Regions from separate parts of the Homo sapiens genome. Here region 1 is linked to region 2. The links come from fine-mapping of genetic effects on gene expression. A gene starts in region 2. The other region holds a variant in brackets. All regions are shown on one strand. Distances are between the middles of the regions. Region 1 has its middle 90 kb from the start of LINC03140. Region 2 holds the start of JADE1 (jade family PHD finger 1).

Region 1 (15,375 bases), 150 kb after region 2:
TGGCATAAGTACTGTCATCCCAGCTTATCACATCTAATATTTTTAATTCATGAAAGGCTAGCATATTGGTTTCTGTGTAGAGCACAATTAGTGGTTCTTCAGCCCTTCATACCACCTTGTCTAGTACATCATCCAACAGGTCTAGTTTAGTTGTATCCCAGGTTACAGGCATCCAGCACCCTGCTCTCTAATTCAAGGGTCATAGAACTGAGTGACAGACCTGTGTACTATAATATTCTCTTGGTGATTTTATTAAGTTTCAAAATGTTTCTATCAGTTATCTAACATAGTCTAACACTCTCCAAATACCAGCCCTGTACTATATGGGATTTTTACATTGGATAAAAGTATTTCTAGATGCAACATGGATTATTTTTTAAAAAGTACTGACTTTGGTGTAAGACTTAAGTTCTAGGCCTGTTTCTGTCTCATGGTAACTACATGATCTTTGAAATTTTCTTAACCTCTCTGAGCTTTAGTATTTATCTCTATAAGGAACTCACTGCAAGCATTATATTAGGGTTAATGTCACTGCAAGGGTTAACTCATTGCAAGCGTTAATTCATGTATGTAAAGCACCCAGTTTAGTTCCTAACACAGGGAAGATACTAATAAATATTGACCATTTTCATTTTCTCCCTTCTTCACAATCTGTCTCATTTGGGATATTATCCTTTGGATATTGGTTGCTTTTAACTAAGGCCCTGTATAACAAAACTTTTCCAATAATATTTATTCATTTATTTATTTATCTATTTATTTATTTATTTTTTGAGACAGAGTCCTGCTCAGTCGCCCAGCCTGGAGTGCAGTAGTAGGATCTCCTCTCACTGCAAGCTCCACCTCCTGGGTTCAAGCCATTCTCCTGCCTCAGCCTCCCGAGTAGCTGGGACTACAGGTGTCCGCCACGACGCCAGGCTAATTTTTTTTGTGTTTTTAGTAGAGATGGGGTTTCACTGTGTTAGCCAGGATGGTCTCGATCTCCCGATCTCGTGATCTGCCTGCTGCGGCCTCCCAAAGTACTGGGATTACAGGCGCTAGCCACCGCACCCGGCCCAATTATTAATTGTTTATTTTTATTTTATTTATTTATTTATTTTTTGAGACGAAGTCTCACTCTGTTGCCCAAGCCAGAGTGCAGTGGTGCAATCTCAGCTCACTGCAACCTCCACCTCCTGGGTTCAAGTGATTATCCTGCCTCAGACTCCAGAGTAGCTGGGACTACAGGCACACACCACCACGCCTGGCTAATTTTTGCATCTTTAGTAGAGACCAGGTCTTGCCATGTTGGCCAGGCTGGTCTCGAACTTCTGACCTCAAGTGATCAGCCCGCCTCGGCCTCTAAAAGTGCTGGGATTACAGGCATGAGCCACCATGCCCAGCCAAAACTTTTTCAATAATTTTTATGAACTTTCCACTTCTCACCAAGTATATGAGCGTGGGGAGGGCTGGGAAATCTAGAAACTGCTCTTTAATTAGTTTGGGGCTGGTATTGACAGCACATTTCCCAACTTCCATTTTCTATCCCATGCTTCCTGCTTGTCATGTACTCTGTTCCTTTACACATCCCTAGAATTCAAGAATGGAAGAAGCACTTGTCAGGAAAACCATTTTTTCTTACCTCCAACATTGGAGAGTTTTGGCTTCCAAAATGAGAATTTCTGCCTTCCAGAATTATTGTAAAGTTTACCTATGCCCTTTCTTATAATCCCCTTCTTCATTTTTTCCCAAATGCTATGGTCCAAACGAGTCTAAAACTCTAAACCCTGTTAAAGTCCTGACCCTAAGGCAATGATATTAGGAGATGGGACCTTTGGGAAGGTGATTAGGTCATGAGGGCAAAGCCCACATGAATGAGATTAATGCTCTTATTAGAATAGGCTCAAGGGACTTCTTTTTTTCACCCCTTCCACCATGTGATGGCTCAGCCAGAAGTCACCATCTGTAGACCAGCAAACGGGCCTTTACCAAACACCGAGTCTGCTAGTGCCTTGATCTTGGACTTCCCAGCCTCCAGAACAGTGTGAAATGAATTTCCGTTGTTTATAAGCAACCCAATTTAATGGTATTTTGTTATAGCAGCCTGAGCAGGCTAAGACACCACAAGATAAGGAGAGACTAATCTGATTGGTGATATAGAAAAGTACTGAAATAGCTCAGCTCCTCTGGGCTTTCTCTTTAGGGCTGCCTGCCTACAAGCCAAGCTGCCCCTTAGCTCCAGCTTCCATGTGGTATCCCATATGGTCTGGTGGGTCACACAGTGAGAAGCAGAATATCTACCTCCATTCAGCTGCCTGAGTGTGTGCTTGGCAGATCCAATGTGGCTCTTTCTATGGGTCTCAAGAAATCGACTTCAGGCAAAGGAGAAAGGCCTTGATTTCAGCCATAGACCTATTCTCCCTTTCAGCATTTTTCAGCAAGAAAGCAGATATTTGGATCTCAATGGACTCTTGTGACTATTTCTCATTTGGCACCTCAGAGATCTCAACACCTCAGAGATCTCAACTAGTGTGAACAGGATTTAGTATGACCTCATCTCTTCTATTCCTTCTCACTAGTGTATAGTTATTGTGGGCATATTATTAGAGGAGGACTTTAACCATGAAGTACCCGCAGTCCAACCTCCCTCATTCTCCCAAGGAGAATGATGCTTGGAAGATATCGAGTCACCCATACTCACATGAGTAGTCAGTGTCAGAACCAAGGCTTGGAACAAACCCAGGTACTCTGACTCCTGGTCCAGAATTCTTGCCAGAGTGTTATGTTGCCTCTTCTTGGCTAAGTAGAATTCAAAGCAGATATGTGCTGGTGGACAAAATTCTCTGGACTCTCACCTTGGGTTCTGGCTCTCTCCTAGGTTTCCATTCTGAGTTTGATGTGGATCCAGTTATTACTAGCTTCTGGTCCTCTTATCCCACCTGGGTGTGAAAACTGCATGCACTACACATCTAGGTATCCCCAACTTGTCTGCAGGCCCCAGGAGAACTGAAGTGTCATAAAATATGATTCTTGAGCCTTCTAACTCAAAACCATCTTGTTGGAAGTAAGGCTGTATAAGTTTTGTATAAAGCATGTAGGGTCAGTTCTAACAGTCCAGAAATTTTATAACATCAGTGTATTTTCTAGGTCTAAGCTCTGTGGACTTGTCTTATTCTTCTTCTTCTTTTTTTTTTTTTTTTTAGTGTTTTCTTTTCTTTTCTTTCCAGCTCTTTTTTTTTTTTTTTTTTTTTTGAAGTGGAGTTTCACTCTTGTCACCCAGGCTGGAGTGCAATGGCACGATCTCGGCTCACTGCAACCTCCGTCTTCCGAGTTCAAGAGATTCTCCTGCCTCAGCCTCTCGAGTAGCTGTGATTACAGGTGCCCACGACCACGCCTGGTTAATTTTTGTATTTTTAGTAGAGACAGGGTTTCACTGTGTTGGCCAGGCTGGTCTCAAACTCCTTACCTCAGGTGATTCATCCACCTCAGCCTTCCAAAGTGCTGGGATTACAGGCGTGAGCCACTGCACCCAGATTTTTCTTAGTGTTTAATGTCATAAAGTCTAGAACTCCCTAGAATGACAAATGTGCTGTGGCAAATGATATTTCACATCAGTCATTTTGACTTATTATTTCCAAATGAAGCAGGATTGTCATGAGAAATACATATCACTGTACAATGGGTATAACCATAGTTGAATACACTGCAAATCTAAAATCACGTGTTTTTCAACCACTCTAACAAAGGTAAAGGGGTAGAATCATTGGGAAAGTATCCCTTATGTAACTCACAGGTAAGTTGTATCTCTACTTTCAGGTCCTGACAACATATGCTTGATCCCAGCTTATTGGACAGCATGAATAGAGCTGGGACCTCTGTTGTCTGAAAGGGAGGGAAGACCCAGGAACCATGAGCAGGAGAGGTGACTGGTTTCTGGAAGGCCCAGGTGATAGGGACTTCCAGAGTGTGCGGGTGGGCATGGGTGTGCTTGGTGGTGAGCAGAACATGAAGGTGGGGCACATGGCAGGGCTCTGTGCTTCCTTTCATGCCTTGGCTTCCTGGAAGGTCTTAACTGGCAATAGCCATCTTCAAAGAGAAGTGGCTGCTGCAGCCCTAGTGCAGTGAGACCCGAGACAGAGCCTTCAGTCCACCAGCCTGAACGACTGATATTTAAATGTCCTAATTAGAGATTTGTTTCTTTATGAGGATGGTATATTTTGAAAACATTAAACTATTTTATTTGTAATCCCCCTCGTCTCCCATTATCATCCCCAGCAGCTTAATGGACCAGACAAATGCTACCTTTTAAAAAGGAGTTATAACCTGAGAAAAGCCTCTATCAGGTAGAAAGGGGCAGGGGAAAAAGGTCCTTTTGTCTCGGAAAACTATGAAAATTAAGCAGTTAGCATGGATGTTCTGATCTGACCTTCTGGGACAAAATCCTGGAGGAAAGAGCAATGAGATGGGTTGAGGAGAAATCCAAAAGCGGAGAGAGTTTATACTCCACTCTTCTAACCAGGAAATCCATGATTCCTGTAGCTCATTAGCAGGCAAGCTGTATCTCCCACTGTAACTGCTGGAGGAGACCACCACGCTTGGTGGCTCCACTGGACCAAGAAGCCTCATGAGCAGAATAAAAATGGTGGCACAGCACAGTCTCCAACTGGAGAAGACTAAGTTGGCATTCCTAAGCTTCCTTCAGCAGCCTGAACACCCAAAGTGCCCAGGAGTTCCTGCCAGTTCTGGGGCTGCAGAACGTAGATAATGAGGCTGGCCTGAGTTTGCCATGAGAGAAGGAAAGAGACTTGGGCATAGGGCTGCAGGGCACGCCACCTAGGCTAGGGAAGTGACTGACACTCAGGTGTCACAAAGTCAGTGCCTCAGGCCTGACCAAGCTAAGATTGAAACAGGTTATCTGGCAGTTTGCCCGCAAATACAGCTGCTACCATTTCCTCTTCTACCTAGATGTATGAAGACAAGGAGTCTGTTTTCCTTCCCCTTGAATCTGGCTGACACTGCACCTTGTTTTGACCAAAAGATTGTGGCAGAAGTGATGTTATGTTGGTTTGAGGACATAGCCTGGCAGATTTTACTTTTGTTCTCTTGGAAGCCAGTTACTGTGATGTGAAGAAACAGGTTACACTCCTGAATGGTAAGAGGATGTGAGGAAAAAGACCCTGGAGGGGTCCAGCTTGGATGTTCTAGCCCCAGGCAAGCTCCCAGCTGAATACAGCCATATGAGTGACATCCACTCCATCTTGTGGAACAGAAAATTTGCCCAGCAGAGCCCAGTCAATCCACAAAATCATGAGATGTAATTGTTTTCATTGTCAAAATGATCGTTTAACCCACTAAGTTTTGAGGTGGTTAGTTATGTAGCGTAAAGTAATTATAATAAACAAAAATTCATCTGTCACAGATTTCATCAGTGGGATCCAGCCCAACCAGAAATAAGCCCATCGCAGTAGTAGAAACCAGCAAGGATCCAGAGAACAAACAACCGTTGAGTCTGAGGCCCTCTCTCCTCTACCTTCATGTACCCATGCACTATTTTGAGAAGGAGCAGCAGGAGGGGAAGAAAGAAGTTAGAAAAGCTGGTGTGGTAGGCAGAGTCATGACCTCCAAATATGTCCACATCCTAATACCTATAACCTGTGAAAAATTACCATACGGGATAAAGGGCAATTAAAATTGCTGATGGAAAGCCAAGCACAGTGACTCTTGCCTGTAATCCCACTGTGGGAGGCTGAAGTGGGAGGATCTCTTAAGCCCAGGAGTTTAGGATCAGCCTGGGCAACATGGTGAAACCCTGTCTCTACAAAAAATTAGCCAGGTACCACTGTACTCCAGCCTGGGTGATACAAAGAGACCCTGTCTCAAAAAAAAAAAAAAAAAAAAAAGGTAATTGATGGAGTTAAGATTGCTAATCAGCTGACTTTAAAATAAGGAGACTAACCTGGATTGTCCGGGTAGACTCAGTATAATCACAAGAGTCCTTAAATGTGGAAGAGTCCGTTCAGAGAGGAGAGATGTGAGAACTCTACACACTGTTGCTGGTTTTGAAGATGCAGGAAAGGACCATAAACCAAGGAATATGAGGGGCCTCTGGAATCTGGACAGTGCACAGAAATGGATTATCCCCTAGAGCCTCCAGAAAGAGACATAGCCCTGCTGACATCTGATTTTAGCCTAAAGAGACCCATTTTGGACTTCTGAACTATAGAAGGATAAGATAATAAATTCATGTTGTTTCAAGCCACTAAGTATGTGTGCTTTTTTGTTTTTGTTTTTGTTTTTTTTTTGCAACAACAGAAAACTAAAAGAGGTAAATTGTAAGTGATTAGATGATTGCTCCAATTAAGACTATCTTAAGATAGAAAAGACTGAGATGGCTTTAAATAGCAATTTTAGGAGTTTTTCTTCATAGCACCCAGTGTGGGAAGGCCAGAGAGTTAAGATTAGATCTTTCATGGGAAACAAAAATTTACTTTTTTGATTTTCACACTCTTGAGTATAGTGAGTTAAATTTGGGACCTGTTGGACATTTGTTCTGAAACTTGATTTTCTGTTAAAACAAACTGTCCTTGGAAGAGTCACACATTAAACTTTTCAGAATGAATGAGTTTATCTGATTGCTTCTGAACACGGGGCTTGAGTGAGGGGAGAATGGAGGAAATAGTCAAGCCTTGAGCATCCAGATTCCTGGGGTGGGGAGGAGTGGGGAGGAGGTAACGAGGCCAGGTAATTCCCAACTCCAAGGATGTGGCAGACATCATTGCTGTCCTTGAGCAGAGCTGTTATCAGTCCCACACAACGCCTCTCTTTACGAACAGTCTCAGAGGCACCATAAACTCTGCATCATGTGGCACTGAGTGCAGGTAGGAGTTCATTATGCCCAACAGCGAGACCAATCGCTTCATGTTACCTAGGGCCCTCACATTCTCATTGTTTTTTTCCACTGCATTTCAGATACCTGTGGTTTCAGCCCTGTAATTGGAACATCACATTTCATCATTGGTCTCTGGTTCTCCAAAGTAAAGGCTTTTTGAACCAAAAGTTAAAATATCAGCTTCCCGTGATCATTATCATCAATTATTATTCTTCACTCTTGAGGTGATACTTAACCATACAATGTTAGAAACACCATTGAATAAGTACTAATGAAATACTTCATAATAATACCACATCATTATTGTAATGATTACCAGGGATTTGTCATTCCTAAGACACACAAATATTTGGGGTATTTCAAGGCAACTACACAGGTCCTTGGATGCTCTTGAGTTCACTCTTAATTGTTTAGAATAGGGAGTGAGGGAGAAAGCTGGGGTAAGGAGGGGAGGGAAGCAAATCAGAGTTAGGTGATTGCTAAAGTCCCTGGGAGGCACAAGAGTGTGAGCTCAGGCATGAGACTACATAAACGCGGTCAAAGTCACTCTAACATTCTGTGACTCTGGGAGGTTACTTACCTCTCTGTCTATATAAGAAAAAAGGTGGGTGCAGTAAGAACAGTGCCTGCATCATAAGACTGATGTGATGATTACATAAGTTAATTCATATAAACACTCTGTTCTAAGTAGAAAGCCAATGCTTGATGAATATTAGTCATTTTTATACAGAACCCCAAAGTTGAGAAATCAACTCTTTCACAAGAACACAGATATTTTCCTCACTTACTGCATTTTACTAACTTCAAGATCAATGTTTCATTCACTTTGATTCCTTCCTCACGTGAGCTTGGTGTCCAGTTCCCTGCATATCTGGAGTCCTTGGAAACTTCTGAGAAGATTGATGCTGTTTCCAGGTTCCCTTATCAGGCCTCTGTTTCTGTTTCCCAACTGCTGCCTTTCCCCATGTGGTTCCAATACCAAAATATTTAGTCCATCTGTCCCAGAGGGTTTGGACTTTCTCTTCATTTGTGCTTCTTGAAATAATATGCTCCTGAGGCACAGACTGTTCCTTCATCACTAAAAAAGGTCAAGCATTTATTAGTCTGTGTATAAACATGACAACAAAGGAGTCCTTGTAAAAATGGAATGTTCA[G/A]CTTGGATAGAACACAGAGTAGTTCCTCTTGAATCTGGCAACTTCCCTTGGTTTTCATATCCTTTAAGTACACCATGTTAATATCACTGTTTCTTTCTTGAATTCCCAAGCCTTCCTTATAAATCCCCACGAACCCTTTGAGGTGCAAGTTTATTCATTTATAGAGCCTATAAGTACAATTTCTTTTTCAATTCAAACACATTAACAGGTTGTTCAGATAAACCAATTCTTTTTTTTTTTCTTTTTTTTGAGACAGGGTCTCACTCTGTCACCTAGGCTGGAGTACAGTGGCACGATCATGGCTGACTGCAGGCTTCACCTCCTGAGCTCAAGCAATCTTCCTGGCTCAGCCTCTTGAGTAGTTGGGACTACAGGCACGCACCACCACACCTGGCTATATATATATTTTTTATTTTTAGTAGAGACAAGGTCTCACTATGTGCCCCAGGCTAGTTTCAAACGTCTGATCTCCAGCGATCCTCCTGCCATGGCCCTCCAAAGTGCTGGGATTACAGGTGTAAGCCACCACACCCGACCCAGATAAACCAATTCTAATACTATGGATGGAAGGTGTACACTCCTGTGTGTTACACAACTACTTATCATAATAAAGGAAAATGACTTTGCTTTGCCACCAGCTGCCATTTCACACAGATGTGGCTCTGATCCCCTTGAGCAGCAACTCCTGGAAGCCCAAATTCTGGTTCATTTTCTTCTTGCTCTTCAGATGACACTAACCAAACACAGAGCTCTATCACCATGGTTTTCCCATTCCTCATGGAAGCCAACCACTGTCTGCATTAGCCTGTTCCCTTCTTAAGCCTGATCCTTTTAGACATTATATATCATCTATCTTTGTAAAACATAGCTTCTGTTTCAGAACTAGTAACACAGTCTGGGTTTAAAAAAGTTTTCATACTTCCATGTTGTCTCTATAAGCTGTTGTGAGACTTCAATGTACATAGGGCCCATTAAAACCAGTTTTTTCAATCCGCATTCCTTTTCATGCTAAGAATGTCTCAATATGGGAGCATTCTCTTTTTTTTTTTTTTTTTTTTTTTTGTCTTTTGAGACAGAGTCTCGCTCTGTCGCCAGGCTGGAGTGCAGTGGCATGGTCTTGGCTCACTGCAACCTACCAAAGTGCTGGGATTACAGGCATGAGTCACCGCGCCCGGCCAGGAGCATTCTACATGATCAATAGTGTTGTTGGTGTTCTTGTCCTTTTTATTTATTTATTTTTTTGAGAAGGAGTCTCGCTCTGTTGCCCAGGCGGGAGTGCAGTGGCACGATCTCGGCTCAGTGCAGCCTCCATCTCCCAGGTTCAGGTGATTCTCCTGCCTCAGTGCTCACTACCACCCCCGCTCCCCACCCCCCATCCAGTAGCTGCAATTACAGGTGCGCACCACCATGCCTAGCTAATTTTTGTATTTTGGAGATGGGGTTTCTCCATGTTGGTCAGACTGGTCTCAAACTCCTGGCCTCAGGTGATCCGCCCGCCTCGGCCTCCTAAAGTGCTGGGATTACAGGCATGAGCCACCGTACCCAGCCTGGTCTTCTTGTTCTTGTTCTTTTTGTTCTTGTTTTGGCTCTCTCTTCCTCCTTTTCCTGCCCCACTCCTCTTCTTCCCCCTTCTCTTCCCCCTTCTCCCCTCCTTCTCCCTTCTCCCCTCCTTCTCCCTTCTCCCCCTTCCCCTTTTCCTTCTCCCTGTTCTATTTTTCTTCTTCTTAACCTGACTTGCCTTTTTGTCCAGAGCTGGCCAGGAAAGCAATGAGGCTTGGAAAAAGATCCACAACATGTTGGCTCACTAAATACTTACTTTACCGCTATGAATTTCTCTGGTGTATGGCAGGAAGTCACGTGGTAGTATATTTTTAACTTGATGTCAACTTGTATTATTTTGTAAATACATAAGTGAATATCAGCCCTGAAATTTAGTGGCCTATCCTTCTCACAGGAAGTACAAAGTACATTTCATTCAAGTGAATGAAACAAACATCTGCTTTCAGGGCTGGCCCCAACTTACTTTTCTAGTTTCTTCAACCATATGCCCCTTGACTTCCCCAACACACACACGCGCACACACACCCCACCACTACACAGCACACACACACTGCTGTTGGCACATCATATTTTTCCCTTTCCTCTGAGCTTAGGACAGTTTTTGAGCTCCAATTAGGGGAATGAATGAATGAAATGAGCTGTGCAATCACGCCCTGCTTTTCTGGTCATCTTTTCCCTGCCTTTTGGACTATCTCCCTTCCCACTACCCCATTTTTATGGAGGAAGTTTCTATTCATCTTTCAAGGCCCAGTTTGCTGCTGTCTCTTCTTCAATCCTCACTCAGGATTACTCTCTTCTCCTCCTTCTACTTACAGGGTTTTCCTTCTTCAATATCACTCCTGCTCTGCCTTTGTTTGCCTTTTTTTGTTTGCTTTTCCTCTTCTCTCCTTACAGTAAAAGTTTCTTCATGGTAGAAAATGTCTTTTTCATTTCTGTATCTCCCAGTCGAGCACAATGGCTGCCATAAGATAAGCGCTGAGATGTTTAATGTCTACTGGTAATTGAGCTCAGAGAGGATGACTTTCAAATTCCAGGCATACAGTACAGTGGAAAGTGTCTAATACCCAAGAAACAGGATGCACAGTGGGAGTTTACATATGGGCACTCCAATGTAGATACCCTGTAGTCACTCGAATCTATGGGTCTGGAGCTGAGGCGAGATCAAGACTAGATATATAGAGTCAGGAGTTACCAGTGTAGCAGTGAGAATTAAAACCAGGGGAGTGGGTACAGAGTGAGAATTGAGGAGGGCTGAAGAAAGTCAACGTTTAAGGGTGGACAATGGATGGGACCCAGCAGTGGACTCTGAGAAGGAGTGGTTTGAGAGGTGAACAAAAAGAGAGTAAAGTCATACAAGCTAGGGGAGGAGTCAAGTTCAAGAAGGATGGTGGTGACTAGGGTTAACTGCTACAGTACTAGGGCAGCTGCTAGATAGAGGTGCAAGGTCAATATAGGCTTTTCAAAGGAGGGAAGTGTTGCTTTTCTTTCAAAGGTTCTTATTTTCAAGGTTGAATCAAATATTTGATAATTAAAACCTTAGGGGTCTAGGAGCTATAGGAACCAAACTCTCAGACAATTATAAACCTCATCAAATCTCACCAGGAAAACTATATTCTAATCTGGATTTCCCTGCTTCTCCCTATAAAAGGCATTACAGGAATATGACAGAAATTTTGTTCACAGCCTGTGACTACCTTAGAGTAATTGAGGATCTTTAAACCATATGTCCTCCGTAGCTGGTGAAGCCTTGTCTTCTTGTGGGGTCACTGGGAAAGGGTTCCTAAAGAAAGCCTTTGAGAGTGTGAAGAATATCATTAATCACCACTGAGCCTCCAAGAGTAAGAGAAAAGTAGCACTTAAAGGCAAAAGATGCCTCGAGATAGGCATTTTAATTTTTTGCCATGATAACAATCGTTATCACAATTTAATTTATATTTATTTGCATTTGCATTATTTAAATTGAAAGAAAATATGACCTTCTTTCTGAAATAGATTAAATTAGTATCAGTACAGAAATGACTACGTAATATTTTTCTTTTCTTATTTTATTTTTGGAGTAGAGAAGCAACCCATCTATCCATTCTTTCATCTGGTTTTTCATACACCTATCCATCTATCCATATATCTATCTGTCTGTCTGTCTCCCCAAATCATTTTAAGTCCCCCTTATGAGCTTTATGTATTCTGTAAGACCCTAAACCTGTAAAAACGAGCAGGACCAGATCAACATAGTCACCATTCATTATATATGAATTTGATCTAAAACATCATTCAAATTAAGTCAGGGATAAGGAGATCATTTAAAGATAAAACCTAAAGATATGCCTTAGGAGGCATCTCTGTACTTCTTCAGTGTACTAATGCTCGCTGGCATTATTGCTATCACTGATAAATGTCAAAGGGGAGAGTGATATTTTTGGAGTTGATTTTTTTACCCTATTACAAAAATAGATTATAAACACACATATGTCACAGAAAGAACTTAAGCTAATATTTCTATATAGGGACAAGCATTAGCATATTTTTAAAGTTCACAGTTACATTTCTGTTGTCAGTTATAATCGTCTCTTGGTTTGAACTCATTATTTTAAGATAGCTATCAAAAATCTATTGGTATAATGTAATCTGCTTAAATTTCACAAGTGTGTGAAAATTTTACAGTCAAAGAGTTCCTAAAGGAAGCTGTGTAATTCAATATTTTCATATAACCATCTTCATAAAGGCACAGAGCTGACTTAAACCAACAAAGGATAGTCCCTAATAACAACAACATAAAGCTATAATTGAACTCAAATTCATGAATATTTTATTTTTAGATAGTTATTTTCCACTCGGACATTAGTCTAAATCAGTATTTAGTTACAATTTACACTAAGCATATGCTTTGGAGGAAGACCATAGATAAAAAGCAAAGTATAAATGAGTCAAAGTTACCCATATCATCATGACACTCTACCACAGGTCCCTTTGCTCCTCTTAGAAGGCAGCTTAGTACCTCCAAGGTTGGAGAAGGCACTAGGTTTATCTGGATTTCTGCTCAGAGAAGTGAATGATACAATGTTTTACATGAGAATCTTGGAGAAAGCTAAGATTTCTCCAACCTTAGAGGGGATTCCCTTTCTAGAAGCCCCTTGCTTGCTGTGTTGGCAGTTGGAATGCCATATTATACAATATACTCGCTTTATTTAGTCAAGGAGACTGTTGAGGCAGTGTCAAACAGCAGGTACAAGAGCTGCAGGAGCTCTTATTATTCATCACAGTTTGGCAGCCTGATGGGTAAAGACAAGTATTGGTGGGATACTCAGGTCACAAACTTCTTTTTCCCACTGCACTTGCAGGGTATGCATTAGTCAGCTCTGCTACTGTAACAAGCAACCCCAAAATCTCAGTTACAACTACAAATACTTATCCTGGATCTGGAATAAAGAAGACAGGTGCATCAAAACTGGCTTTATGTCTTCTTCATTCCAGATCCAGGCTGAAAGAGCAGTCCATTTTGGGGTATGCCATTCCTATGACAGAGAGAAAACAGCAAGAGAGCTGGTGGAATACAATCACTCTTAAAGATTTGGCACAGATGAGGCATAGTCAAGGTCACCCACAAGGCCTAGTCACTCACGTGCCCAAGCCTGACATCAAAGGTGCAGAAATTGTAGACTCTCCCATAGGAGGTACTCCAAGAGAAGGAGAATAGGGTCTGGAGGCAGGGAACCTAAGGCTGATTTACCCTGACTTCCTAGAACTAAATCAAAAGGAAAAGCCTGACTTTCCACACCCAAGTAACAAAAGGATGAGAGGCTACTGCCTTTGCAACCCCCTTCCCCGCTTTTCCACATGGTAGATGAAAAATTGAAAGTACCTCTGATTGGTCCCCCCTCACAACCAATCAGACTGATCTTGGGCCAAGTCTTCGTTTGCATAGGAGTATAACTCTATAACTTCATTTCAGCCTCTGATTGGTCACTTTCCACAACCAATCAGACGTTTGCATAGGTTGCAACTTTGTAACTTAACTTCAGCCTCTGATTGATTGTTTTCCTTAACCAATTGGGCTGATCGTGGGCCACTACTTCATTTACACAGGATGTACACCAAATAACCAATGAAAAACCTCTAGAGGGTATTTAAATCCCAGAAAATTCTGTAACCAGAGCTCTTGAGCTGCTTGCTCGAGCCTGCTCCCACTCTGTGGAGTGTACTTTCATTTCAATAAATCTGTGCTTCTCTTTTGTTGCTTTGTTTGTGCATTTTTGTCCAATTCTTTGTTCAAAATGCCAAGAACCTGGATACCCTTCACCAGTCACACAAGTCTGTGTAATCTGTCAGAATGGGGAGTGAGTTGCTGGAAACAAAAACACAATCTATGTTCCTTGCTGCAGCCCCTACCCAGTTCTCCAGCCTATTCCTTCAAGCCCCTCCTCTTCAATGCCAGCTCAAGGAGGGTAGTTTGGAGAGCTCCATGGTGAAGGACTGTGCCCAAGAAGTGGGGCTGCAGCAGCTGTTGTTGCCATTCATCCCTGCTTTGTTCTCAGCGGCCTCTAAGTGCAGAAGGCGGAATAAATTGGCAAGAACTGAAGATGAGTTGGAAGGCAAACAAGAGAACTGAGAGCTTTCTCATTAACTAAAGGGGTCATTGAGATAATGCTTGAGGCAAGAGGCAGAGTGACCTTTAGGTACTTGGCTGGAGGGCTGTCCTGAGAGAATGGAATGAAGCTCACCCCTTAAAGCCATCATCCCCTTCAATTAATATTTACTGAGCACTACTAAGACACTGACCCTGTACTCAGAACTGTAAGCTTTCCTGGGTTGGAAAAGGCTCTGACTAATTTGCACATTAAAAAGCACACAGACAGAGGAACCCACCTTTTTTTCCCTTTCCCAGTCACCCTGGGAGAGACCGTCTTCTCTTCTTCATTCATGTGTGGAATCCCAATTAAGCGTAGTAAACAAAGGAAACTTCTTACATTGTGATTTTCCTCCCTCTTCCCTTGTTTTATTTGCAGTCTGGATTTATTGCTCAAGAATTACCTCCTTTAAGCATCATCCCCTATTAGCCAGAGAGATAAAAGCCATAAAGGGAAGGGAACTCCTTCAGTTCTCTTTGCCAGTTGTGAGACAGAGCAGCTGCGTTTACAAGGGGAGTTGACATCTGTTGACTGAGCCGAGCCTGTCCTGCCCCAGCACTGTGCTCATGCTTGGAATGCAAACTGCAGCTATCAGAGACAGCGCCGGGGTTTAATAACTGCTTGAGCCCAGAGCAAATCTACTTGGGCACTAGAAAAGAAATTGTATAGTTTTAAAGCAGATGTATGCTCTTAACGTGGTTGGCTTGTAAAGCAATAAAACTTGGGGTTTTTCCCCCCTTAGCCTATCACAACTCTTAGAATAAACAGTGTACTTAAGACAGGGCGATTCTATCACAATTCCATGTAATATTTAGTCCATATAACAAGATAAAATTTGAATTAGCATCACATATAGAAGGCATTTCATTTTCTCACATACAGTACAATATTAAGCGCAAACAACATATGTCTCCATGGTTATAAACAACAGCGTCATGTTTGCAAAACAGATCCTATATGTAGAACGTCTGTAAATGGGAGAAAATATGGGGCTTTTGTTGGTTAAAATGATGTTAAATATTTCAAGTCGCATGATCTTTATAAGAAACATTTTCAGGGGCCAGGCGCGGTGGCTCACGCCTGTAATCCCAGCACTTTGGGAGGCCGAGGCGGGTGGATCACGAGATCAGGAGATTGAGACCAGCCTGACCAACCCTGATGGGGTTTA
Region 2 (15,375 bases):
CTGTAATCCCAGCTACTCGGGAGGCTGAGGCAGGAGAATTGCTTGAACCCAGGAGACAGACGTTGCAGTGAGCCCAGATCATGCCACTGCACTCCATCCTGCATAACAGAGCAAGACTCTATCTCAAAAAAAAAAAAGAAGTCCCTAACTAGAATAATCAAAAGGAAGGCATTGAGGAGACCTCTAAGCAACTTAAATAAAGGCCACAGTAAAACCAGTGGGTTTTTCTCAAAAGAAAACCCCTGAGGCTCCTACTTGGAGCCAGTGTACACAAGTTTTAAAAACTTCTAACAGGCTTCTTATTTGATTTTCAAGTTAATGACCAATAAGCAGAAAAATCACTGTTCTCAACAGGCATTTTAACTACAATACATGGTAACAGTGGCAGTAAAAGGATCACAGAGAAATCATAAAAAGAAGTCACCAGAATTTAAACACTTAAACTAGAATCCAAGGATGTGCTTAAGGAAACACCCATGTTTTCTGGGGGAGAGCTTCCATGGGTTTCAGTGTCAAGTGTCCCCAACTTAAAAAGTTACAACCACCAACACTCAGCCTCTATATGTTAAGTGCATCATGGCATTTCCACATGGAAGTAACTGATGCTCGTAAAGATTATGACAAAGAGTAATCAATAAAAAATTTAAATTGCATTTAGTGTACTTTGTGCTAAATTAAAGCAAGCCATGAAGTTCAACCTCAAGCAACTTGCTAATAACATTGCTATTTCTTGTTCCTTACCCTGGTTTAAGTGGGAAACAAACAAACAAAAAGATTATTTTATGCCTCAGTGTGGACCCACACCACTGAAATCTTCACTTAAAGTAAGTCCTTATAAACTCTCATGGAAGATGCCATGAATTCTCAAAATAATAAAATCTCCTGCACAGGAGACACTAAATGATCAATAGTTTAAAATATTACTTCCACCAGCCACACAGGTGCACACTTGTAATCGCAGTTAGGAAGCCAGGGCGGGAGGACTCAGCTCTGGAGTTCAAGACTAGCCTGGGCAACCTGAGCAACATAGTGAAACCTCATCTCTCTAACAAAAAATACAAAGAGACAGATGTCAATTGTGAGCGCTTTCAAAGTAATAGAAAACTGGCCAGTCATGGTGGTTCACACCTGTAATCTAGCACTTTGGGAGGCCGAGGTAGGTGGGTCACTTGAGGTCAGGAGTTTGAGACCAGCCTGGCCAACATGGTAAAACCCCGTCTCTACTAAAAATACAAAAATTAGACAGACACGGCGGCATGCGCCTGTGATCCCAGCTACTCCGGAGGCTGACTCACTTGAACCCACTGCAGTGAGCCGAGATCCCACCACTGCACTCCACCCTGGGTGACAGAGCAAGAACTTGTCTCAAAAAAAAAAAAAGAGAGAGAAAATGTAGTTTACTTCCCTCAACAAGTAAGCCCAAAAAAATCTAAGGTTTTAAAAATTAACTTTCTTCAACTGCTCTCTATCACATTATGTCCTACCTCTACCTGAAGAACTAAAGGCAAAAAGTAAATACTGAATTCGTTTTAGAGTAACCAAAATTTGGTCACTGAACATTTACTGTGTGCACATCGTACACTATGGGTCTAAGGGATTAAACGTAAAAATACATGGCCCCTTTCCTAGTGATAAAGGCTTTCCAGTCCAAGTCTGGTAATCTTTATGTTTGTGCTTTGAGGTGAGGAAAGGATCCTTAATAATCATTCAAGTCCTGGGCTAGGAAAGGCCCCATCATAGCCAAAGTTTTTAGCATCAATTTCTTCCATTCTATTCCATGACACCCAACCTTAAACTTACAAATTGTCACTTCTATGTGTAATTAAAAAGGCCCTCCAAGGTCATTTTCTTGCATTTATTAGGAGAGCAGAGTAACTTGCTTCATCAGGGCTATGAACTGCAAAAAAAGAAAAAATAAAAATAATGCATACACCCTCATGATCACAAACCAAAGTTTTCATATGAGAAATACACTAGGCAAAGGACAATAGACTCAATAGACTCAACTAAATCTCAACTTCTGAGATATTACATTCCACAAACATAAAAAGAATTGTCCAGATTGTAAATACATGGTCATATAAAGTGCTGCAAGGACTTGAAAACGGAGAAAACAGATTTAAGACTTTTAAGGAAACAACTTACCTGTCTCAGGAATTAAAATACTTTCCTAATTTAAGATTGCTGATACCTTCTAAGAAACCAGAAACTCCAAGCAAACCCACCCTTCATGTTTAAAAAAAAAAAAAAAGTATTGTTGAATATGGTGCCAATTCTCTAAAGGCTTGTACAAGGGAGGAAATAAGTTTAAACGTGACGTAACTTTCACCGTTTTAACAATCAAGCTAAACCTCTTAATGCCAACCCAAATAAAAAGCAAGGTGTGTTCGCTAATATGTCATATTTCCCTCTATAACTGTTTTATAAACCTCACAGGAAAACCAGTTTTATAATGCAAATTCTGACAGACCATTAACTGTAATGCTGTAACAGGTGCCCCATAATACTAAATGACAGGGAAGAGCTTCACAAACAAGAAAGTAAAGCAGCAAGCAGAACTGTGACAGATTCCTATGCCTCCTCTTCTCTGACCAAACCCTAAAGAGACAGGATGTAATCTGTATTTGATATCTTGATGTTTACTGTTCCAACCACCTCAGTACTGAAACACAAACATCTGATAAATCTTTTTCCAACAAGTCTGTGGAAAGTAACATCAAGCAAGCAGATGATCTCCAAATTTAAGATTTCCAAATTACAATAAATACCATTTGGATTTCCTGCTTTTTTAAAATCCAGGCAACTTTATTTCCAAAGGCTTGCCTCCTCAGTGTCAGATATTCTGTCAAAAAGTTACTTAAGATTGCCGGGCACGGTGGCTCACGCCTGTAACCCCAGAACTTTGGGAGGCTGAGGCGGGCGGATCACGAGGTCAGGAGATCGAGACCATCCTGGCTAACACGGTGAAACCCCGTCTTAATAAAAATACAAAAAAATTAGCTGGGCATGGTGGCGGGTGCCTGTAGTCCCAGCTACTCTGGAGGCTGAGGCAGGAGAATGGCGTGAACCCGCGAGGCGGAGCTTACAGGGAGGCGGAGCTTACAGGGAGGCGGAGCTTACAGGGAGGCGGAGCTTACAGGGAGCCGAGATCGCACCCCTGCACTCCAGCCTGGGTGACAGAGCAAGCCTCCGTCTCAAAAAAAAAAAAAAAAAGTTACTTAAGATTAAAATCGACTTAAGGGAAACAACCAAATGCAATAAATGGTCCTTTATTAGGCAGTGGTTTAGACAAAGCTTCTCTATTACAGTCTGGGGCTAAATGGGGAAATCTGGACATGTTACAGTAATAGATTATATTAAAACTAACCAAGCTAGCTGACAGAAAAAAAAAAGGTCCTCAGAGCTGGGTGCGGTGGCTCACGCCTGTAATCCCAGCACTTTGGGAGGCCGAGGCAGGTGGATCACCTGAGGTCAGGAGTTCAAGACCAGCCTGACAAACATGGTGAAAACCCGTCTCTACTAAAAATACAAAAAATTAGCTGGGCGTGGTGGCGGGAGCCTGTAATCCCAGCTACTCAGGAGGCTGAGGCAGGAGAATCGCTTGAACCTGGGAGGCATAGGTTGCAGTGAGATCCCACCATTGCACTCCAGCCTGGGCAACATGAGCAAAACTTCATCTCAAAAAAAAAAAAAAAAGAAAAAATCCTTACAGATGGTATATTCATGTATCTCATTTTTATTAAAACACACATGCACATGCATAGAAAATTATCTGAAAAGTAATACAGTAGTCATCTATGGATGGTAGCAATTTGTTTTTATATTTGTTTCCTTGTATTTTCTAATTTTCAAAAACGTACATGTAACACTACTTGTGTAATAACTTTTTAACAGCTAAAGTCAAAAATTAATATCGGTCACGTGCCTACTATACGTAAGACGCAATGGAAATCTGCTTTTACTCTCACCTAGTCCTCCAAGTTTGTTTTTTAGGTCATCTTTCTTCTCCAACCCCCTAGGCTAAGCAACAAAACACATTTCCTCAAACTCCAATAGGTTTTCTCCCTCTAGTTTCACCCAGACACACATACTTTTCATTGCTGTCCCTGTATAGCTACTCTTTCAACCTGGATAACTAATATAAGCACAGCACTGGTTTACAGGCAGAAAACCAGTCAAGTGAAGCGGGGAGAACTAAGAAGGTGGGTTTTTTTTTTTTCTTTTAAATGAACACATATCTACCTTTGTTAAAGCTAAAATATATGTGCAGCCAACCCAACTTTTACTAGTAAGCAGTCTGTACTCTTAAAGGTGGAATCAAGTTCAAGTTCTACCTTACTTTCAGACACTCCCATTATCTCTGCTAAATAGGGACCAAAGGAAATAGCAGGAAACCTAACACTTAAACAGCTTAAAATTATATTTATTCTACACATTAAAATGACAATGCCAAGTAAAAGACACTTATAGAAGTATCCAAACTTTGAAGAAGACAGCAAAATACCAAGCAGAAAGTCATCTGATTTACAAGTGACCGTAAGCAGGCTGGGCGTGGTGGCTCACGCCTGTAATCCCAGCACTTTGAGAGGCCGGGGCGGGCGGATCACGAGGTCAGGAGTTCGAGACCAGCCTGGCTAATATGGTGAAACCCCGTCTCTACTAAAAATACAAAAAAAAATTAGCCAGCCGTGGTGGCACGCGCCTGTAGTCCCAGCTACTCAGGGGGCTGAGGCAGGAGAATCGCTTGAACCCAGGAGGCGGAGGTTGCAGTGAGCTAAGATCATGCCACTGCACTCCAGCCTGGGTGACAGAGCGAAAGACTCTGTCTCAAGGAACAAAAAAAAAAAAAAAAAAAAGTGACCGTAAGTAAATGAGACTAAGATCTTTGGGATAAAAGGACAATAAAAATTCTGGGTTGCATGTACTTGCTAAGAGTGTTACTCACAAAACATCCCATTTAACTCCCCCCACGTATGTTGCCCACCTACAACAAATTATTACATCAAAAGTGTTGACTCAATGCAAGTATGGACATATTGAATGCTTCCTTTCTCCACCTTTCTCCACCTGTGATTAAATCTTGATCAGTTGTGATATGATCAAAATGCAACTTACTATAAAATCTGTAACCACTGGGGAGTCACTACCTAAATCAGCTTTCAGGGAAATAATTTCCCTCTATCTTAAAACTAGTTCATTAGCTTTGAAAGGTATTAGCCTTGAGCTACAAGTAGCAAGAGAGCTAGCCTTCATGGCGGGTATTATAAAAAGGAAAAATAGTTCACCTAATAAAAAACCTTTGGGAAAGAACCCCCTAAGCATTCCCATTAATGGAAACCTCAGATCCTCTCCTACTTTCCTAAAAACGTAGCTGTCTCAGGTCATTCACTGCAGCTGTCATTTTACAAAAGAAAATTTAAATTCCCTCTTGGCCGGGGCAAATAGAGGGCGACAGCCCCTCGCCCCTGCCGAAGTAAGGCAGGGCGCCAGCCCTCTCGTTACTAGAAGGCAAGCTAAAGCTCCTTTTAAACGGTCTCCGGATGACGACGCATTCCTAACGGGTTTCGAAGGCATGTTTAAATCGCCCGCTTTTTTGTTTGCTCTCAGCATTCACCGGCGCCGGGACTGCGGCCGCCCCCACCCGCTTGGGGTGGGAAACCTGGGGCCAGCGGAGCCTGGCGCGGGAGGAATCCTGGGGCGAGGGGAGACCCGGGACGCGCCAAGCCGGGGTTGAGGACTCGAGAATAAGGAGCTCTAGTGGGAGGGTGGCGGAGTGAGAGGGGACGTGAGAAGGCTAAGGATCCCAGCAAGGGGGGCACCCCGGGGTTGTGGGGGAGCTCGGCCGCCGCCCCGCAGCGGCGAACGCTCCGCGCGGCTCCCGCCGCCCGCCGGGGAATGCGCAGGGCCGCGGTTCCGCGCGGCGCCGACCCCTCCCTCTCTCCCAATCCTCCTCCTCCTCCTCCTCCCGAGGCGACAGAAACAACAGCGCGGGAGGAGGGGAAAGTAACTCCCGGCACCTCCGCCGGAATTAGCCCCGGTGCAGTGATGACACCTTCTCGTGGCGCAACCAAGCCCCGCTCCCTCCGCAGCGGCGTCCCCGCCGCCGCCGCCCTCTCCATTTGAAAGTGGCCACCCCCCGCCGCGGCAGCTCCTCCCGCCCCGCCGCCGCCAGCTGCACCAATCCGCTCGGCCCCAGTTGCAAATCAAACGCTCCCTCGCGTCCAGAAGCCACTTGCGCCGCTGGAAACGGCCGCGCCGTCCCCCTCCCCGAGTCCCTCCGGGGCGGCACCTTCGGGCTGGGGCGGGCGCGCCGGCGAGAAACGGTTTTAAGATGGGAGCGGCAGCGGCGGCGAGGAGCTCCGAGCGGGCTCGGCTCCCGCTCCCGCTCCCGCCCCCAGACAGTTCTGGAAACTGTGTATCACCTCTGTCACAGGAAGCCATCCGGCGAGGAAGGCGGCGCGGAACCAACAAACAAACGCCTGCGGCCGCCCGCCGGAACCGGCGCGGGGACCGCGTCGGGCTTCGGGCCGTTCCCGGGGCGGGGGCGCAGCGGCCACCCCCGCGCCGCGGGCTTTGTGCGGGGCGGGCGCGGCGGGCCGGGCGTCCCCGCCCCCGCAACCCCCCACCCCGGCCCGGGCGGCGCAGCTGGGACCGTTAGGTGACGCTCCGGCCGCAGCGGAGAAGCAGCGCCTCGGCCGCCGCCCGCCCCCATTTCCACACTGGGCCGCCTCTCCTCAAACACCAGAGGCGGGCTACAAAAGTTGGCCCCGGGGCCACCCAGCACCTGCCCACGTGCCGCGGAGGCTCGCTCCCGAGTCTCCCCCGGTTCCCTCCCCCGCCGCCCTCGGCCGCCAGGTCACCTATTACCGGTGGGAGGGGAGAGAGGCTGCTATTTAAACGCCCGCGGAAGTTGAGGCACCCCCACTGGCGGGTGCCGTGCACCTGCCTCCCGCCGCCGCGCTCCGCCACTTTGAGCAGCAGCCGCGTCCTCAGCCCCGCCTCCTGCCCGAAGGCGGGCGGGGGGGAGCGGGAAGGAGGTGGAAGGGATCGAATTTCTCCAGCAAATGGGACCGTTCCGACAGGATTCGGTTCCCCGGTCAACATTCCACATTCCATCCCTCTCCCGCATTTGCAAGCCAATGCCGAGCAACCCGGAAAGCCTGCTGGCTACCGAACAACAGCCCCCAACTCGCAAACACAGACTCACAGGCACAAGACACGTGCACTGAAGGGCTCTGCAACTTGCAGTCCCGGGGTACACACTACACGTTCATTTAAGGAAGCAAGGAGACCAAGAGACCCCACCCCCACAATTTGCAGATGGTGCCAAAGGTTGCAATTTGCAATCCCCTTTAAGTTCACGATTAATCGGTACTTTGCTCTACCAACGCCAACTCCTACCCCATTTCATCGATTAAGGGGTTTTACACTTTACAAGCAGTCGCGCTGTAAGTAAAAGATCTGATCACTGGAAGCCCAGTTCGGAAGAATCTAATTGCCAAACTGTCCCTCCACCCCCACCCCCACCCCCCTCTCACTGCCCTTGAATTGATGCAATGAATATTTTGGACATGTGGTGACGCGGTGACAAGAGCCAGGGCTGCGGCCACCACACACAGATGTACCTACGCACACCTATGTTTGGACAAATACAGTCCCACCACACACACGGTCTCACACACTCTGGATTCATATATGTACGCGAACCTGCGTTCTGCCATTGCCATCTGTCTACCAAGTTGCTACTATGCTTTCCACTTTCATGCAGCCTAATGCACTTTGGCTTTCTAAAAAAAAAAAAAAAAAAAAAAAACCTATAAACTAAAGCCAACTTAAACTGGGCTTCTGCTCCTAAACGCGTTTAATTGATGATTCACCTGAAAACCGCATGTTCTTCGCAAATCCAAAAGAAGAAATAGCTCTAAGTCTTCAGCCCCCCAAATTTGAAAAAAAAAATCATAATAAAACTTACTGATCCAACATAGATCAATTCTCAGGATCCAAAAATCATCCTCTCCTCCTCCTCCGGCCCCCGCCCCGGCAATGCCCAAGTTACTGGTGGGATAGTAACGCTGCGCTCAGCGGCTGCCTCCCTCCCTCCTCGCTACAGATCGAGAACCCAATCTTTTGGCGCCATATTAATGACGTATTATATTATTTCCACTAGGCAGCGACCTTCGGCATTAAATTACTCCCGAGAACTCCCGAGCAAAGCAACAAAACCATCAAATATGGCTGAGCCTCTCGGCTCGTCCTGCAGCCGCCGCCGCCGCCGCCGCCGTCGCCGCCGCGGGACCGGGACGCGCACACGGACCCACACGCGGACACGCGCGGACACACGCGCGGCGCGCCCACCCCGCGCGCCCCCCGCGGCCCGCGCGCGTACCTGCTGCGGAGGGGTTCGGCCGAGGCGCTGGGCTGGGCGCCGCTCGCTCGCTCGGAGCTGCATGAGTTCGGGCCGCGGCGGGCGGGGAGCCGGGCGGGCCCCTGCTCTCGCCGGCGCGCACACACCGGGCACTCGCGCACGGAGGCACTCTCGGTCTGGCGTTTGGCTTGTTATGGAGGAAGGACTATGTGAATCAAACTCATTTCTGGGTCACTGCTGCCACAGGGGGGAGCACTTTAATCCCTTGCCAAAACGAGAGGGTGGGGACGGGAGGGCGGAGGGAGCATGCGGGGAGCCCGCGGCGCTGGGGCTCGGTCCCTCGTTAACTCTTCGCAGCCCTAGCCGCAGCCGGCTCAGCCTGCGCCAGTGGGGGCTCGCAAAGAACGGCACTGTTCAGCTCTTAGTCTCTTTCCTTACTTCACCCACCTTGTGAGCCTAGAAATTCTTGAGGTGTCTCCAAGCAAGTGGGTTTTTAAATTAGCCCCTTCAAACTGCTGTCCCAGTTTCAACTCTTGTCTGACATCTAGAAATGGATTCTTTCAGAATAGTTTAAAATTACGTAGATTAAAATATGGCTATTAAGATGTGTCATTTGGGTGAAAGGTTTTATTTTTAGGCTGAGTGGCAAAATAGTTGTTTGTAGTAACAGTTTTAGGGAGTTGCACATTAGGATGACATTTTTAAATAGAGAGAATCCAATTCTGAATAACATCTTTACCTAAATTTGTATGGAAGTGATCATTGCAAATGAGCATTAATTCATTAGAAGATATTATTTATAAATTGACACCACTTTATGTTACACATTACTACAGAATTGGACATCTTCTCCCAAATATGAGGAGTGAGCCTAATGCTAAAACTAGAATTGCAGACTAGTATCAGATCAGTCATCGGAGATTCATTTGGGGGTATTTATGTGTAAAAAGGAGTGGTTACTGATTTTCTGCAGAAGACAAGCTTGCTTTTTCATATAGAGGGCAACATACTTCTTTCATGGATTCATCTAGGGAAATAGAGGGGTATATGACATTCAACTTCAATAAGAAAAAAGTACGGATTAAAAACTCCCATTCAGGCCGGGCGCGGTGGCTCACGCCTGTAATCCCAGCACTTTGGGAGGCCTAGGTGGGCGGATCACCTGAGGTCGGGAGTTCAAGACCAGCCTGACCAACATGGATAAACCCTGTCTCTACTAAAAAATACAAAATTAGCCGGGCATGGTGGTACATGCCTGTAACCCCAGCTACTGGGGAGGCTGAGGCAGGAGAATCGCTTGAACCCGGGAGGTGGAGGTTGTGATGAGCCGATAATGCGCCATTGTGGTCCAGCCTGGGCAATAAGAGCGAAACTCCGTCTCAAATAAATAAATAAATAAATAGGAACAGTGATCACTAATTACAAAATTGAATATCGAACCCAAAAGGCATATGTGTCCACCGGAAGAATCTTTCTGAATATATCAGGTTTGATTTCATGTAATCCCACACCAGCCCAACTACCCACATCCAGACCCACATCCAGAACGTTATAATCTGATAAATGCGACAAAACAAAACTAATTGAGCCTTTCAGTTATTTTTCAGAAAACAAAGTAAGCCAGTGGAAATCCTAAGTACTGTATATGTCCTCTCCTGTTTCGCTAATGAAGAGTAGAAAGACTCCCTGCCAGTCCTATTCATGTGTTCACTTAATCCTGTTCAAAGCGATCACACATGTAAAGCACTGTGTTAACTATCATTATTACTATTCTTAGTATTGCACTTGTTATTGTTATTTTTACTGGTTCACCTCGCACATACTCTCTGTAGAAGTTAAAGTACACAGGCTTTGTAGCCAGACATGGCTGGATCTGGCTCTATCAGTTAGCAGTTTGTGTGCCTGTGGGATAAAAGAACTTTATCTGAGCCTCAGTTTCTTCCCTGGTAATAAAATTAAGTTAACAGCTGGCCCCTAACCTGAAGGGTTGTTAAGAGGAATCAGGCAACCTCATAACAGTTCAGGAGTAGAGGCCCTGGCAGTAGGAGGTTGTCCACTCCCTCGGCCATCACTCAACTCCTTCTTGGTTTTCTCTCCATCAAAAATTGCAACTTTTCTAAATTCCAAACAGCCTTACTTCACGCATTCATGTTAAGAAAATTTTTGTCGACCGGGCGCGGTGGCTCATGCCTGTAATCCCAGCACTTTGGGAGGCAGAGGCGGGCGGATCACGAGGTCAGGAGATCCAGACCATCCTGGCTAACACGGTGAAACCCCGTCTCTACTAAAAATACAAAAAATTAGCCGGGTGTGGTGGCGGGCGCCTGTAGTCCCAGCTGCTGGGGAGGCTGAGGCAGGAGAATGGCGTGAACCCGGCAGGAGGAGCTTGCAGTGTGCCGAGATCACGCCACTGCACTGTAGCCTGGGCGACAGAGCGAGACTCTGTCTCAAAAAAAAAATTTTTTTAACTCACATTTGCTGCTTACTCTTTTATTTGCTTTTTCTATCAAAAACATCAGGCACCAACGAAAGTATTGAATAAAATGGATGACAAAAATAAAGGGATAAAATGGCACACAAACTCCCCACACTGACACATTGAACATGAGTGAAGGTGCCATGTACAGAGTCTCAATTATGCCGTGGCTTCAGAATACTCATCCACTGAAACAGTGCTATGTGCTATAAATAGCCCTGGACAAGAAGTCAGGAGACTCCCACCAACTCCCAATATGACTCTTTGGGCTTTAGTTTCCCCACTGAGATGATAGGAAAAATAATGCCTAAGGCCCCTTTCTCTTTAACATTCAGTCATTTCTGATTTTCTTACCAAACTTAGAAACGTGATGATTATTTGAAGAAATGGCGGACAACTTGAATCCATAAGGAACATGTAAAAATATTTTGTCATCAATGATCAGCAGTTGGCATTTCTTAAATAATAGGTGTCTCTTGCCATCAGACCACAAAGGAAACTCCTATACAACCTATTTCTAAAATGGGAAAGGCAATGATATGGTTTGCCTTGCGGCAGCACAGATAATACAGCCTAGAATAAGAAGTACTAAGCTGGCAATTAGGAAAGCGAGTTTCTGATTCCACTCTGTCACTTACTGTCTTACCTTGCCAAATCATTCCGGATCATCATTTCCTAGTCTCTGGAATAGTTCTTTTTAATTCACACCTTATTATCAGAGATGAAAAGACATTCAACAAAATAGCTACAAGGTACTCAGTGTAATAGAAATATCAAGATTCTTGTCTTTCCTGTTCGTGGTGATAATTACAATTCTATATATCCTGTACATTCTGCTGTAGTCATAAACAGTTTAATTATTTTCTTCCATAATAATGGGTTTTTATGAAATAGAAATTTGGATATTTATATTCATATTCCTGATTTTGAAACCAGACTTGATTAAACCTCTGAATGTTTACTTAGTCATTTCATCTACTTCTCTGTAGGTAAAGAATTATAAGGCCTTGATAAGAGATTCAGAATTGTTCATATTTGAAATGAAGGGATGCATACACTAAAGTCCTGTATTATCTCATTCCTTTAGGGAAATGAGCAAGAAATTCTTACTGGCAAATACCACTGTCAGTTGGTATACATTCCAACGAGATAATTTTTTTTTTTTTCAAGATCAGGGTCTCACTCTGCCACCCAGGCTGGAGTTCAGTGGTCCCAACATGGCTCAGTGCAGCCTCCACCTCCAGGCCTCAAGCAATTCCCCCACCTCAGCCTCCAAAGTAGCTGGGAACACAGGCATGAACCACCACACCTGACTAATTTTTCATATTTTTTGTAGAGACAGGATTTCACCGTGTTTCCCAGACTGGTCTCAAACTCCTGAGCTCAAGCGATCCGCCCTCCTCGCTCTCCCAAAGTGCTGGGATAATAGGCGTGAGCCACTGCGCCTGCACCCAGAGAGAAGAATTTTTTTTTTTTTTACTGTAAAAGGGCAATCTTGGATAAAATGGGTTGTATCCTAAAAGTTTATTTGCATGTACTTTAATTTTTTTGGAATTTTGTGCCAAAAATGTCTTGTTACTAAAGAGGGCTTAGATTGTTGTTTTTAAAAATAATTCTAATAACTAAATGATAAAAAATAACTTTTTATTTTTCAACCAGGCGTGGTGGCTCACACCTGTATTCCCAGCACTTTGGGAGGCTGAGGCGGGTGGATCACTTGAGGTCAGGAGTTTGAGACCAGCCTGATCAATATAGTGAAAACCCATCTCTACTAAATATAAAAATTCGCTGGGCGCGGTGGCTCACGCCTGTAATCCCAGCACTTTGGGAGGCCAAGGCAGGCGGATCACAAGGTCAAGCGTTCAAGACCAGCCTGGCCAACATGGTGAAACCCCGTCTCTACTAAAAATACAAAAATTAGCTGGGCGTGGTGGTGCATACCTGTCATCCCAGCTACTTGGTAAGCTGAGGCAGAAGAATTGCTTGAACCCGGGAGGCGGAGTTTGCAGTGAGCTGAGATCTTGCCGCTCTACTCCAGCCTGGGTGACAGACCGAGACTCCATCTCAAAAAAAAAAGAAAAAAAAAAAAGAAATTACCCAGGCGTGGTGGCGCATGCCTGTAATCCCGGCTACTTGGGAAGCTGAGGCAGGAAAATCGCTTGACCCAGGAGGCGGAGGCTGCGGTGAGCCGAGATTGCACCATTGCACTGCAGCCTGGGCAATGAGAGCGAAACTCCATCTCAAAAAAATAATAATAATAACTTTTTATTAACTTTGTTGAGTAATATTGTATGAGGGAGGGATGTAGTTCAAAGAGGAATAAGGACATATAATTCTTTTTTGTTTTTTAACACCCCTTGTCCTAATGTATGGTACATATAATTCTGAACAAGAAAAGTTGAGAGCCACAGTCAACACCTATCTGAACTCCGTGACACAGGAGATGAAGGGTAAGAGATTAGGACTAGAATTCCTTGTCTGACCTGTTGGTGAAGTCACCAGTCCTTAACAACATTTTAGCTCCTCCAGGCAGGTCATTACAACCTCCAAATATATGGAATATTTGTTTCTTGTTGGTGTCAGTACCAACTAAATTACTTTCTTCTTGAGATTCTTTCTTCCCCTTCTTTTTGTTTTCCTTTGCTTGCTTTTCATTTTGGTTGTTTTAATTTTGTTGATTTCCATACTTTTAGTGAAAGTAAAAATGTCAAAGAGAAGTAAGTATGAAATGGGATAACAGGAGATAATTCCACCAGATGGAAATGACCAAAGCTGAGGAGGTTCAAAATAAGTAAAGCTCTTCCCTAATCATGAAAGGAATACATGATAATGAAATTTTGAAAATTTAGAAAAATGAAGTAATAAAACTCAACCATATGGATAACTATTATAAACATTGTCCATTTTTTGGTCTTTTTTCTATGCATTTTTCCTAAAATTGGAATGATGCGACACATTCCATTTTACATCCTTCCTTTTCACTTACATCTTTCAATTTTTCCATTTGGGTATTAAATACTTTTATGCAATGTTTGTGCATTTCAGGTCTTTGACCCCCTCTGTGTTATTATACCTTCCTCCACAGGTTACTTTGGCTATTCATTCTCATAGCTACTCTCCCTGGACCTTGTCAACTACTGGAAATTTCTGCCATCTTTATTATCAAACTCAAGTATCTCCCATTTTGACCACTACCTTTCAGATTTCCAAAGTCTATACATCCCACCTTACCCTTCTTTTTATCTGAAAGTCCTCTGATCTACCCCTCCAGCCTTTTCTTACCAACAACAGAACGGATGTAACTCATAAGGTCTCTAATCAGCAGCAGCAGCACCTGAGAACTTGTCAGAAATGCATTATTTCCAGCCCCACCCCAGACCTACTGAAACAGAAAGTGGGATCCGGCAATCTGTGTTTTAACAACCCTTCCTGGTAGTTCTGATCCACACTCAATCAGAAAAACACTTATGTAGGTCTCACTCCCACCTACCACCTCTAACCAACTGTTTTCTGAACTTTCTTGTCTAATGTTTCTTCATTCCTCAGACAAATGTGTTAAGCAATTAGTATGTCCCAGGCACAGGGCTGGCTAGGCACTGGAGACAAGGTAAAACAGGCAAGTAGGCCTATTCTTTGTCCACGGGCCAGTAGAAAATATTAAAAAGTGATTTCAATAAACTCCAGGGTTTGGGGGAGGCATATAGCATACACCTGATCTGCCTGGTGGGAAGAGGGTGGTCAGAGAAGACGTCAGTCTAAAAATAAGTGACACTAAAGCTGAAACCCGAAGGCATCAGCCAGGTGAGGAGGAGGAGGATGGGGGCCAAATGTTGACTTTTTACAAGCCCTTTGGCTTCAGGGTAGGGAACTGGATGGGTTGGGAGGGCGGCGGGTTTGTAGACTGGAGAGAGTAAGCCTAGTTAGGAGGCTAGATGACAGTTGAAGGCAGGCTGAACTATCATTGTTGATTGTGGAGTGCAGATAGGCAAACAAACCACCCTGTGATGAGGGCATCGTTAACACTGTCTCAGCTCTTCAGAGGCCTCCAGCTCCCCCAGTTCTGGAGCTGCTGCTCTAAGGGGTACCTGGGGGATGTCTCTGGGGTTTACAGAGTCCCTGGGGCATGTCAGGAGGGTGTCCACAAGGCAGAGGCAGTGTTTGGGGCAGAAAGCAACATGTAGGGGAAACAAGCAAAGCTCCTGATGGGCAGTGAGTAGGTGGAAGTCCTGGTACAGGGGGATCCAAGTCCTCTCCCAGCACCCAGAGCTGAGGCTCAAGCAGCATGGCTGAGCAGAGGAGGCCTCCCTGACGGTGCGTGGGGAGGACTCGGGCCCCTCATAGGGGTCCTGCTCCAACCCCTCTTCTTCCAAAAGGCCTGGATCAGATCCCAGGACTCCCTAGCATCCTGGGGTCACCACCCCATAGTTTCTTTATCCCTCCACCTGAAAGCTTCATTTTTCCCCACTTTCTTCCACAATTCACCTTAATGGCCCATTATAACCTGAGCCCAAATCATTAGCAAATGAAGAACCAG

What was found.
Region 1: its variant is fine-mapped to the expression of JADE1 in thyroid (GTEx, PIP above 0.99).

The regions. Positions count from the first base shown.
Region 1 is chr4:128,653,047-128,668,421 of GRCh38, reverse strand. No RefSeq gene overlaps it. Among named protein-coding and RNA genes, the nearest start is that of LINC03140, 90 kb to the right of the region's middle. RefSeq lists an enhancer at 15,361-15,375. The variant G/A (reference allele first, on the strand shown) is at 8,023.
Region 2 is chr4:128,802,889-128,818,263 of GRCh38, reverse strand. It overlaps JADE1 (jade family PHD finger 1), which reads right to left and starts at 8,564. Exons shown (of 11, transcript NM_199320.4): 1 at 8,387-8,564. RefSeq lists enhancers at 4,145-4,726, 4,727-5,308, 8,052-8,161, 14,720-15,375 and silencers at 5,752-6,321, 6,502-6,601, 6,722-7,001, 7,632-7,751, 8,262-8,741.